Homo sapiens: one gene and its partners. The protein of the gene in region 1 interacts with the protein of each later gene in a biochemical or structural test. Each region holds a gene or a part of one and is shown on either strand. Other genes may lie near its edges. The genes, in order: SLBP, CDK6, MIF4GD and CUL4A.

Evidence for each region.
Region 2: of the proteins of SLBP (region 1) and CDK6, one has a biochemical effect on the other in vitro, tested with the Homo sapiens proteins (one large-scale study listed by BioGRID and IntAct).
Region 3: the proteins of SLBP (region 1) and MIF4GD interact in a biophysical measurement, tested with the Homo sapiens proteins (one study listed by IntAct).
Region 4: the proteins of SLBP (region 1) and CUL4A form a complex in vitro, tested with the Homo sapiens proteins (one study listed by BioGRID).

The regions. Positions count from the first base shown.
Region 1 is NC_000004.12:1,695,219-1,698,852, reverse strand, and holds part of SLBP (histone RNA hairpin-binding protein), read left to right. Parts: intron 1-2,501; coding exon 2,502-2,651; intron 2,652-3,634. UniProt on the Homo sapiens protein: RNA-binding protein involved in the histone pre-mRNA processing.
Region 2 is NC_000007.14:92,604,397-92,607,107, reverse strand, and holds the end of CDK6 (cyclin-dependent kinase 6), read left to right. Parts: 3' UTR 1-2,187; downstream 2,188-2,711. UniProt on the Homo sapiens protein: Serine/threonine-protein kinase involved in the control of the cell cycle and differentiation; promotes G1/S transition. Phosphorylates pRB/RB1 and NPM1.
Region 3 is NC_000017.11:75,265,685-75,268,322, reverse strand, and holds the end of MIF4GD (MIF4G domain-containing protein), read left to right. Parts: intron 1-130; coding exon 131-240; intron 241-421; coding exon 422-577; intron 578-692; coding exon 693-785; coding exon of another isoform or gene 786-872; intron 873-1,355; coding exon 1,356-1,583; 3' UTR 1,584-2,095; downstream 2,096-2,638. Other genes in the region: MRPS7 (small ribosomal subunit protein uS7m), read right to left, coding at 2,400-2,621. UniProt on the Homo sapiens protein: Functions in replication-dependent translation of histone mRNAs which differ from other eukaryotic mRNAs in that they do not end with a poly-A tail but a stem-loop. May participate in circularizing those mRNAs specifically enhancing their translation.
Region 4 is NC_000013.11:113,240,522-113,244,155, forward strand, and holds part of CUL4A (cullin-4A), read left to right. Parts: intron 1-2,446; coding exon 2,447-2,639; intron 2,640-3,634. UniProt on the Homo sapiens protein: Core component of multiple cullin-RING-based E3 ubiquitin-protein ligase complexes which mediate the ubiquitination of target proteins. As a scaffold protein may contribute to catalysis through positioning of the substrate and the ubiquitin-conjugating enzyme.

The DNA of each region.
Region 1 (3,634 bases):
CACCACTGCACTCCAGCCTGGGCTGCAGAGTATGAGACTTTGTCTCTTAAAAAAAAAAATTTTACTTTTGGCTGAGTGCAGTGGCTCATGCCTGTAATCCCAGCACTTTGGGAGGCCGAGGAGTGCGGATCATGAGGTCAGGAGATCGAGACCACCCTGGCTAACACGGTGGAACCCCGTCTCTACTAAAAATACAAGAAATTTGCTGGGCGTGGTGGCACACATTTGTAGTCCCAGCTACTCGGGAGGCTGAGGCAGGAGAATCACTTGAACCTGGGAGGAGGAGGTTGCAGTGAGCCGAGATTGCACCACTGCACTCCAGCCTGGGTCACAGAGCAAGACTCCATCTCAAAAAAAACAATTTTTTTTTTTTTTTTTTACTTTTTTGGAACATAGCTGGCAAAGGAATAGTAAGATTCAATGTGATGGTGCTTTTTTTTTTCCCTCCTGACCGAGTCTTGCTGTTACCTAGGCTGAAGTGCAGTGTTATATCATGTCTCACTGTGTATTCATTTTTTTGAGACGGAATCTTGCTCTGTTGCCCAGGCTGGAGTGCAGTGGCGCAATTTCAACTCCACCTCTCGGGTTCAAGCGATTCTCCTGCCTCAGCCTCCACAGGCGCCTGCCACCACACTTGGTTAATTTTCGTATTTTCAGTAGAGATGGGGTTTTACCATATTGGCCAGGCTGGTCTCGCACTGCTGATCTCGTGATCCGTCTGTCTCTGCCTCCCACAGTGCTGGGATTACAGGGGTGAGCCACCACGCCCAACCATCATGGCTCACTGTAGTCTTAACTCCTGGCCTCAAGCAATCCTCCTACCTCAACCTCCTGAGTAGCTGGGACCAGCGGTGCATGCCGCCACACCTGGCTAAACTTTTAAATTTTTATAGAGATGGGAGTCTCCCTATGTCGCCCAGGCTGGTCTTGAACTCCTGGCCTCAAGTAGTCCTCCCAAAGTACTGTGATTACAAGCGTGAGCCACTGTGCCCAGCGGATAGTGATTTTTTTGAGACCGAGTTTCACTCTAGTCCAGGCTGGAGTACAATGGTGCAATCTTGGCTCACCGCAACCTCCGCCTCCCAGGTTCAAGCGATTCTCCTGCCTCAGCCTCCCAAGTAGCTGGAATTACAGGCATGCGCCACCATGCCTGGGCTAATTTTTTTGTATTTTTAGTACAGATGGTGTTTCTCCATGTTGGTCAGGCTGGTCTCGAACTCCTGACTTTGGGTGATCTGCCTGCCTCGGCCTCCCAAAGTGCTGGGATTACAGGTGTGAGCCACCGCACCCGGCCCGGATAGTGCTTTTTAATTTTTTAATTTTTTTAAACATATTTGTTCATTTTGTAGGATCTCAGTTGATTTTTTATTTATTTATTTATTTTTGAGACGGAGTCTCCCTCTGTCACCAGGCTGGAGTGCAGTGGCACGATTTTGGCTCACTGCAACCTCCGCCTCATGGGTTCAAGTGATTCTCCTGCCTCAGCCTCCCGAGTAGCTGGGATTACAGGTGTCTACCACCACGCCTGGCTAGTTTTTTGTATTTTTAGTGGAGACAGGGTTTCACCCTGTTGGCCAGGCTGGTCTTGAACTTCTGATCTCAGGTGATCTGCCTGCCTCAGCCTCCCAAAGTGCTGGGATTACAGCGTGAACCACTGTGCCCGGCTTTTTTTTTTTTTTTTTTTTTTTTTTTTTAAGGTGGAGTCTTGCTCTGTTGACCAGACTGGAGTTGCAGTGGCATGATCTAGGCTCATTGCAACCATCGCCTCCCAGGTTCAAGCAATTCTTCTGCCTCAGCCGCTGGAGTAGCTGGGACTCAAGGCATAAGCCACCATGACTGGCTAATTTTTGGTATTTTTAGTAGAGATGAGGTTTCATCATGTTGGCCAGCCTGATCTCAGGCTCTTGAGTTCAAGTGATTTGCCACACCCAGCAGCGTTTGTTTTTTTTTTTTTTGGAGGTGAAGTCTCGCTGTGTTGCCCATGCTGGAGTGCAGTGGCACGATCTCGGCTCACTGCAAGCTCTGCCTCCCGGGTTCAGGCGATCCTCCTCCCTCAGCCCCCTAATAGCTAGGATTACAGGCACAGGCCACCACGCCCGGCTAATTTTTGCATTTTTAGTAGAGACGGGGTTTCACCATGTTGGCCAAGCTGGTCTCGAACTGCTGACCTCAGGTGATCCACCCACCTTGGCCTCCCAAAATGCTAGGATTATAGGTGTGAGCCACCGCTCCCAGCCCCTAGCTGTTTTTTTGTTCTGTTTTGTTGTTTTTTTTAAATAGAGACGAGGTCTCACTGTGTTGCCCAGGCCATTTTTAAATTCCTGAGCTTAAGTGATCTTGGCATGACCTCCCAAAATGCTAGGATTACAGGCATGAGCCACCATGCCTGGTGATCTGTAATATTTAAAATAATACTAATCTCATAGTTTGGTTAATCTTCAGGCTAATGTGGAAATGTGAGTGGCATGTGGGCATGTGCTAGAATAATCTTTCTCCTGTAGACACCTTCGACAACCTGGCATTCATCCCAAGACCCCTAATAAATTTAAGAAGTATAGTCGACGTTCATGGGACCAGCAAATCAAACTCTGGAAGGTGGCTCTGCATTTTTGGGATCCTCCAGCGGAAGAAGGATGTGATTTGCAAGAAATGTATGTCTTTATTGCATTCTTGTCCTGTGATTCTCTGATTGGTCCAGTGACTGGAGCAGCTGCGCACCACTGGGACAGGAGGTCTGGTGCCAAGTCCCCCAGCAGCTGTTGGGGAGCAGAGCAGCTGCTGCAGCTCGGTGCTGAGTTCTTCTGTACTGGGAGGGAGGCAGCTGGAAGGAAGAGTTTGCTTCCTGGATTGAATTTATTTTTTCAAGCAAAGTCAATCTGGGAATACAGTTTTTGTTTGTTGTTTTGCTGTTTTTGTTGTTGTAGTTGTTTTTCCCCTAAAAATTACAATAATCTCTGGAATTTGTTTTTTAAATATAAATATCCTAAAAAGTATTTGAGTCATTTCGGCTCAACCATGAAAATAAAAGTTCTTAATTAAGGAAGGAAGGCTTTCTTTCTCTGTTGGCTTTTTTTTTTTGGGAGATGCTCTGTCACCGAGGCTGGAGTGCAGTGGCGTGATCCCGGCTCACTGCAACCTTCACCTTCTGGGTTCAGGTGGTTCTCCTGCCTCAGCCTCCTGAGTAGCTGGGATTACAGGCACGCGCCACCACGCCCAGCTATTTTTTGTATTTTTAGTGGAGACGGGGTTTCACCATGTAATTCCTGACCTTGTGATCTACCCGCCTCAGCCTCCCAAAGTGCTGGGATTACAGGGGTGAGCCACTGCTCCCAGCCCCGTTGGCCTTTAAACTTGTGCCTAGTTGAAATGTCTCAGGCCTGAACTTTTGCTGCATCATGGCAATACCTGCTGACCAGGAAGGTAGAGAGAATGATCGTGTACCTCCCTCCCTCTATGTGGGGTTTCTTCTCAGCTCCCCTCTGGTCCTGAGCCTCTCGCTTCCTCAGACACATTCTTTAAACAAACAATTAGAGTTTCTCCTCTGTGCTGGGAAATTTTTTAGAGACTGGCATGTTTGAAACGATTGTAAGTGGCTTTACCAGTTTGTCCTGACAGATGTCATTTGGGTTTTTTC
Region 2 (2,711 bases), on another chromosome or scaffold:
CGTGTCAGATGGAGAAGTCCAAGTTTCCATGCTTCAGGCAACTTAGCTGTGTACAGAAGCAATCCAGTGTGGTAATAAAAAGCAAGGATTGCCTGTATAATTTATTATAAAATAAAAGGGATTTTAACAACCAACAATTCCCAACACCTCAAAAGCTTGTTGCATTTTTTGGTATTTGAGGTTTTTATCTGAAGGTTAAAGGGCAAGTGTTTGGTATAGAAGAGCAGTATGTGTTAAGAAAAGAAAAATATTGGTTCACGTAGAGTGCAAATTAGAACTAGAAAGTTTTATACGATTATCATTTTGAGATGTGTTAAAGTAGGTTTTCACTGTAAAATGTATTAGTGTTTCTGCATTGCCATAGGGCCTGGTTAAAACTTTCTCTTAGGTTTCAGGAAGACTGTCACATACAGTAAGCTTTTTTCCTTCTGACTTATAATAGAAAATGTTTTGAAAGTAAAAAAAAAAAATCTAATTTGGAAATTTGACTTGTTAGTTTCTGTGTTTGAAATCATGGTTCTAGAAATGTAGAAATTGTGTATATCAGATACTCATCTAGGCTGTGTGAACCAGCCCAAGATGACCAACATCCCCACACCTCTACATCTCTGTCCCCTGTATCTCTTCCTTTCTACCACTAAAGTGTTCCCTGCTACCATCCTGGCTTGTCCACATGGTGCTCTCCATCTTCCTCCACATCATGGACCACAGGTGTGCCTGTCTAGGCCTGGCCACCACTCCCAACTTGACCTAGCCACATTCATCTAGAGATGGTTCCTGATGCTGGGCACAGACTGTGCTCATGGCACCCATTAGAAATGCCTCTAGCATCTTTGTATGCATCTTGATTTTTAAACCAAGTCATTGTACAGAGCATTCAGTTTTGGCTGTGGTACCAAGAGAAAAACTAATCAAGAATATAAACCACATTCCAGGCTGCTGTTTTCTCTCCATCTACAGGCCACACTTTTACTGTATTTCTTCATACTTGAAATTCATTCTGCTATTTTCATATCAGGGTACAGACTTATAAGGGTGCATGTTCCTTAAAGGTGCATAATTATTCTTATTCCGTTTGCTTATATTGCTACAGAATGCTCTGTTTTGGTGCTTTGAGTTCTGCAGACCCAAGAAGCAGTGTGGAAATTCACTGCCTGGGACACAGTCTTATAAGAATGTTGGCAGGTGACTTTGTATCAGATGTTGCTTCTCTTTTCTCTGTACACAGATTGAGAGTTACCACAGTGGCCTGTCGGGTCCACCCTGTGGGTGCAGCACAGCTCTCTGAAAGCAAGAACCTTCCTACCTATTCTAACGTTTTTGCCCTCTAAGAAAAATGGCCTCAGGTATGGTATAGACATAGCAAGAGGGGAAGGGCTGTCTCACTCTAGCAACCATCCCTCCATTACACACAGAAAGCCCTCTTGAAGCAAAAGAAGAAGAAAGAAAGAAAGCTTATCTCTAAGGCTACTGTCTTCAGAATGCTCTGAGCTGAATGCTCTTGCTCCTTTCCCAAGAGGCAGATGAAAATATAGCCAGTTTATCTATACCCTTCCTATCTGAGGAGGAGAATAGAAAAGTAGGGTAAATATGTAACGTAAAATATGTCATTCAAGGACCACCAAAACTTTAAGTACCCTATCATTAAAAATCTGGTTTTAAAAGTAGCTCAAGTAAGGGATGCTTTGTGACCCAGGGTTTCTGAAGTCAGATAGCCATTCTTACCTGCCCCTTACTCTGACTTATTGGGAAAGGGAGAACTGCAGTGGTGTTTCTGTTGCAGTGGCAAAGGTAACATGTCAGAAAATTCAGAGGGTTGCATACCAATAATCCTTTGGAAACTGGATGTCTTACTGGGTGCTAGAATGAAAATGTAGGTATTTATTGTCAGATGATGAAGTTCATTGTTTTTTTCAAAATTGGTGTTGAAATATCACTGTCCAATGTGTTCACTTATGTGAAAGCTAAATTGAATGAGGCAAAAAGAGCAAATAGTTTGTATATTTGTAATACCTTTTGTATTTCTTACAATAAAAATATTGGTAGCAAATAAAAATAATAAAAACAATAACTTTAAACTGCTTTCTGGAGATGAATTACTCTCCTGGCTATTTTCTTTTTTACTTTAATGTAAAATGAGTATAACTGTAGTGAGTAAAATTCATTAAATTCCAAGTTTTAGCAGAATGTGTTTTTTTTCTTTCTTTTTTTTTTTTTTTTTTTTTTTTTGGTGCTTCTTATTTGCAACCTGGCCATGTGGTAGAAAGAATGTGTTTTAAAGTTTTACTTTAAGAGATTCCTTTTCAGGCTTCTAGTGTTTAAAAAGTAAATAACAGCTAAGTGAGCTTAGAACTCATTCAACAATTGGCCGGGCACGGTGGCTCATGCCTTTAATCCCAGTACTTTGGGAGGCCGAGGCAGGCAGATCACCAGAGGTCAGGAGTTCAAGACCAGGCTGGCCAACGTGGTGAAACCCTGTGTCTACTAAAAATACATGAAAACTAGCCGGGCATGGTGGCACGCGCCTGTAATCCCAGCTACTCAGGAGACTGAGGCAGGAGAATCACTTGAACCTGGGAAGTGGAGGTTGCAGTGACCTAAGATGGCGCCACTGCACTCCTGCCTAAGCAACAGAGCAAGACTCCATCTCAAAAAAAAAAAAGAACTCATTCAACAATCATGCGTTGCTTAATGACTGAGATACAGTCTGA
Region 3 (2,638 bases), on another chromosome or scaffold:
TATGATTTCTGATCTCTTTCACTTCAAGCATATGAGTGCTCTACTGTAAATATCTCAAATTCTTAGAAGCGGGTGGACACAAATGTGATAAAGCAGCAGCTCTAGACTCCCCTCCTATCTCTACCCCTAGATCCGGGTGCTGTGGACTTGGAGAAAGTGGCCAATGTGATTGTGGACCATTCTCTGCAGGACTGTGTGTTCAGCAAGGAAGCAGGACGCATGTGCTACGCCATCATTCAGGTTGGGGGTTGGGAGAGGAAAGGAAGCTGCTTTGAGGAAGGTGCTTCAGGAGTGGGCAGAAGGCCTGGCCTGCAGGACAGAGATGCACAGGGTCTAGCTCAAAGAGAGAGAGAGGCATAGGATGGGTGGGGTTACAGGGGCACCGCCCCCCACCCTTCACCTTCCTCTCCCTGGCTCACAGGCAGAGAGTAAACAAGCAGGCCAGAGTGTCTTCCGACGTGGACTCCTCAACCGGCTGCAGCAGGAGTACCAGGCTCGGGAGCAGCTGCGAGCACGCTCCCTGCAGGGCTGGGTCTGCTATGTCACCTTTATCTGCAACATCTTTGACTACCTGAGGGTGAGGCCCCGGCAGCCACCCTGGGAGGCAGACATGGCCTGTTTCCTGAGGCCCAGGTTGGACTGCTCCCCTTGGCCACTAAGCCTGGTGCTCTGACCCCTCCTCTTCCTCACAGGTGAACAACATGCCCATGATGGCCCTGGTGAACCCTGTCTATGACTGCCTCTTCCGGCTGGCCCAGCCAGACAGTTTGAGCAAGGAGGAGGAGGTGGGTGGCCCCAGCCCTGGCACAAGCACAGAAGGCTGCAGGATGGACAGTCCAGCTCAGCCGTGTGTCAGCCCACTGCTCACGGAGGTCTCTGAGGACTGTGTCACTTCTGGGGCAGGACTGTGGGGGTGTTTAAGGCCTGTCAGTTATAGGACAAGCTGCCAGGTCTGGAGTTTATCCAATAGAGAGCAGCCAAAACCTACTGGCTCAGTAGCTTCCTTCTCAGTCAGAAAGCCAACGTATGATGGCAGCTGTGCAAGCCATGGCTAGCTGTGGGTACAGACGGCCCCAAAGCCAAACCAGGGTCAGGCAGTGTGTGGGAGGCAGGAGAGTGGGATGAAGAAGTGGTTTGGAGACAGGCTTGAGTGGAGCCTGGCCAGATGAGGGACCTCAGGCAAGTCCCGGAACTCATTTCTTTCTGTGTAAGATGTGGAAGTACCCACTGGATGGTAAGGAGGGAGCAAGGGAATGAGTGTAAAGGCAAAGCACAGCACCTGGCACTTGGCAAATGCTGTGTGAGAGGCTGGCACTGCCCCAGTTCACTTGTGTTACCCACACTGTCGCCTGCAGGTGGACTGTTTGGTGCTGCAGCTGCACCGGGTTGGGGAGCAGCTGGAGAAAATGAATGGGCAGCGCATGGATGAGCTCTTTGTGCTGATCCGGGATGGCTTCCTGCTCCCAACTGGCCTCAGCTCCCTGGCCCAGCTGCTGCTGCTGGAGATCATTGAGTTCCGGGCGGCCGGCTGGAAGACAACGCCAGCTGCCCACAAGTATTACTACAGCGAAGTCTCCGACTAGGCCTCCAGATCAGGGCTTCCTCACCAGCACTGGCCTTTCTTCTACCCACCTCTAAAGCTGGCAGTGGAGTCTCTGCCTCACCCAAAGACTTTTCCCTTCCAGACTTTGAGTGTCTTCCCTTCTAGACTTTCCCATCTCCTGGTGAGATGTTTCCCACTTATGCCGTGGTCCTGCCCTGAGCCCCTTTCCCCACCACAACCCACCACGGCCAGGCAGAGAAGGGCAACTCCCAAGAGCCACTGCACTGTGTAACCATTAGTGCAACTACTACCTTGGTGCCTCAGTTTACCCATCTGTAAAATGGGTAAGCATAGCCACTGGTGGGATATTTTGGGATGTCAAGGGGTGGAGGCAGAGCACAAGTCACACCAGAAACTGCTTTTTATACATTTTGTATAAGGACAACTCTGGAAACAAGCCTATTTCCTCCAGCCAGTTTCACTGAATGCTGCACCACATGCTACACCAGTTCAGCGTGAGAATTTTCTAATAAATCTTTTCTGATACTAAAACTGCTTCCTTTATATATCCAAAGGTCCGCCCCAACCTAAGGGAAGAGAAAACAGCCCTGAGTTTCCTGGAGGAAATTCCCAAGTCAATGTGCTCCCTCTTTACAAGGAAATAGGGGCAGAGAGAGCAAGTTCCAGCCTCAAAGAAAGAAGGATTAACGGATAGTGAATATGCTGCTACATCTTTCTTACGAGGCCTGCCCACCCTTACAAAGGAACTACATCCTTAACCCACAGGTAGTTTTCAGCGTGGCAGTAGCTCACACTGTTTCTTGCGGCAGAGGGCCCTGGGCTCCTCCTGGAGACTCTACCACCAGCGGTAGTGGGCCAGGGCACGGTTGGCCTCTGCCATCTTGTGCAAGTCATGCTTCCTCTTGATCACGGGGCCCTGGTTATGGAAAGCCTCCAGCAGCTTGTGTGACAGCTTCTCCGGCATCAGTGTCCGCTGGTGCTTTTTATCCCGGCACTCAGTGATCATCCACTTCATGGCTAGGAAGCGGCGACGCCGGTCGGGTAGGGGTACAGGGACCTGGGTGAGACAGGACA
Region 4 (3,634 bases), on another chromosome or scaffold:
TGTGTTTTTGCTTGCTGGTGACTATTCTTAAATCCCATAATGAAAAGATAAACAAAATTTCCAGAGAATTACACTAAGAGGAAAAAAAGAAAAGCCAATCACAGATACTTAACGTGTTATTGCATAACATTTTGGAAATGACAAAATTTAGAAATGGAGGATAGATGAAAAGTTACCAGGGTGTAGGGATGGGGCAGGGTGTGTGGTTATAAAAGGCCCCAGGAGGTAGCCTTCTGCGGGAACAGTCGGGGTTTCGGCCGAGGTCTAGATGTGCACACCCAGATGAGTTACGAGTAAACTGGGCCATGTGAAAAAGACGGGTGCGCTGCCATGTCAGTACCCCAGCTGAGACACTGTTGTGTAGTTTCGCAAACCGTTGCCATTGGAGGAAACTGTGGAAATAAAGACACTGGGATTGCTTTGCTATTTTTACTATTATGCAAATCTGTCATTATCTGAATAAAGATTTCCGTTAAATAAAAAAGATAAAGCTTACATGCTGCTTTATGGAATAATCAGACCTGAAGTCATGTATCAGTCCAGCTGTGGAAAGCCAGCACTCACAGCACCCCTCCCCACAAGGTCTCGTACAATGATAGAATTGGAACTTATAACTGAGTCACACTAAATTGGCCATAAAGCTACTGAAGATTTAGGTTTTTTGCCAGTGAGACAGTCTTCAGGGGATGGGAATGTGTGCTAAAAACTAGGAAAAGTTCACCTTTGCAGTTTCCAGTCTGGGTAATAAAAATCAGTGAGTGACCATCACCCCTGAGTGTCAGCAATAAGTAGTTATACTGTAACAAAATAGTAGTTTATATTCAACTCCACATGCCGTTATCAAAATAAAGCTGGGCCTTGTAGTGTATGTGCATTATTTCAAAATGCAGTTAGCACCAAAGGGTGTAGAGTAAGAGGTAAGTCCCTCCCACACCTGCTAGCCACACACCGCCCCTCTCTGGGAGAGTCTGTGCCCTTTCTGTTGGCATCTTTTTTTTTTTTTTTTTTTTTGAGGTGGAGTCTCACTCTGTCATCCAGGCTGGAGTGTAGTGGCGTGATCTCAGCTCACTGCAACCTCTGCCTCCTGGGTTCAAGCAGTTCCCTGCCTCAGCCTCCTGAGTAGCTGGGATTACAGGCTCCCGCCACCACACCTGGCCAATTTTTGTATTTTTAGTAGAGATGGGGTTTCACCATATTGTCCAAGCTGGTCTTGGAACTCCAGACCTTGTGATCCACCCGCCTTAGCCTCCCAAAGTGCTGGGATTACAAGCGTGAGCCACTGCGCCCAGCCTTCTCTTGGCATCTTTCCACCAGCCAGCTACCTCGCGTGTGTGTGTGATGTGTGAGTGCACATGTGCATTCTATTGAGACGAATTTTTTAAATCCAATCATTGTATTCAGTTCCTCTTCGGCATATATAGTTTATATCATCAAATGTTAACTGTTTATTAGTGCCCTACACAGACTTTTAGGAATGTTTAATATAACAGTTTTAAATTAAAAATACAAACTAGGCTAGGCACAGTGGCTCACGCTTGTAATCCCACCACTTTGGGAGGCCAAGGCAGGCAGATCATGAAGTCAAGAGATCAAGACCATCCTGGCCAACATGGTGAAACCCCGTCTCTAGCTGGGCGTGGTGGTGTGCACCTGTAGTCCCAGCTACATGGGAGGCGGAGGTTGCAGTGAGCCGAGATCACGCCACTGCACTCCAGCCTGGTGACAAAGCGAGAGTCCATCTCAAAACAAAAAAAAAAAAGTACAAACTAAAAAAGTGAGCTTTTCATGGTTAGAAGTGATGGAGAAGGAAAACTAGCCAAGAAGTCCCAAGAGGTATATTGAATTAATAGGAATTAACTTGTCTTGGAGGAACTTACACATAAACATTCTTTAAAAAGCAACGGACATTTTCCAGTCGTTTGTAAGTTCTCTCAGAAACAGAATCGTAAGACCAATGCATTAATTGTGTATTTAATTGTATATTCACACCAAGCACAGGGGCTCATGCCTGTAAACCCAGCACTTTGGGAAATCACAGTGGGAGGATTGCTTGAGGCCAGGAGTTCGAGACCAGCCTGGGCAACATGACCCCGTCTCTACAAAACTTTAAAAAGATGGGCCAGATGTGGTGGCCTGAGCCTGTAGCACCAGCTACTCAGGAGGCTGAGGTGGGAGGATTGCTTGAGCTTGGGAGGTTGAGGCTGCAGTGAACCGTGATTGCACCACCGCACTCCAGCCTCGGCCGCAGAGTGAGGGCCTGCCTCAAAAAAAAGTGTATTCACTTAATTTTTGAAATGTGAATTCAATTTGTGAAACTTTTAAAGTTATTGAGTATTTACTACTAAGAGTAATTTATGTTAAACTATCCTGATTATATGATAGCAGGAGAAGATACTGTTTGCTATTGTAAACATGTTGCTGAGTTGGTATTGATTTGCTTTTGTAGACTTTTGGAACAGCGATCGTAATCAATCCTGAGAAAGACAAAGACATGGTCCAAGACCTGTTGGACTTCAAGGACAAGGTGGACCACGTGATCGAGGTCTGCTTCCAGAAGAATGAGCGGTTCGTCAACCTGATGAAGGAGTCCTTTGAGACGTTCATCAACAAGAGACCCAACAAGCCTGCAGAACTGATCGGTAGAAAAATATTTGTTTTTTTTGTTTGTTTGTTTTTGAGACAGTCTCACCCATTTCTAGACAATTTTTTAATATGGGAAAATAAGGCAAAATCAACCAAAATGTTCAAGCTGCTCAAGGGGTGTGTGGAAAGCGTTTTTATCAAGTCTTATTAGGACACAAATTTAAAAACCGACACACCTGCATGCATGGGTGGAGGAGGGCATTTCCATAAGGGAAGATGAGGTAAGAATTTAGAAAAGAAATGATGCTTGACTTCGCCAAAGAAGGGAGGGGTGATCACCATCTTTGTATCCTCTAATCCATATTAAAATAGGATAAAACCAGATGAGATCTCAAATGATAATACTATTTTTAAGCTGTACAATTTTTTCACAATAATATCAAAATATATTTCAGAATTCATAGGCTTTCTCTAGTCAGTAAAATTTTTTTTTTAATTCGAAGGAGAAAGGGGGCAAAGAGAGCTGAAATACGACGATACTAGATTGACTGTTGATTACTGCTGAAGATGTAAGATGGAACATGGAGCTCATTGTGCAATTGTCTGCTTTTCTGTGTGTTCAGAATATTCCATTACAAAATGTTTAAAAGAAAAAAACTAACAAAAACAGCAACAGAAGGAATTCAGGAGGCAGTTTACTTTGGCTTTTGTTCCTCTGTATCATTTGTGGTTTCTCTAAAGCAAAGGGATGTTGAGCTCTTGGGAGTTTGGGCTTCTGGAAGTCTTGGGTTCTCCCATCACATGGGGACTTTGGTCCTCCCTCCCAAGCCACCTGACGATGGCTTGTGCAGCCTCAGAAACAGGAAGCCCGAGTAGAAATGCTTTCACCCTGCGTTGCCACCTTGGATGCTCTGAGAAAGTCTTTCTCTTTGAGAATGTCTCCTCTGCATTCATGACACCAGATCCTAGAAATAGGCACTCCAGCGTCCGGGGCAGTCACGTCCTGAAACCTGAGCATGTATTTGCTGAAGTCATTTTATTTTGAAATTCA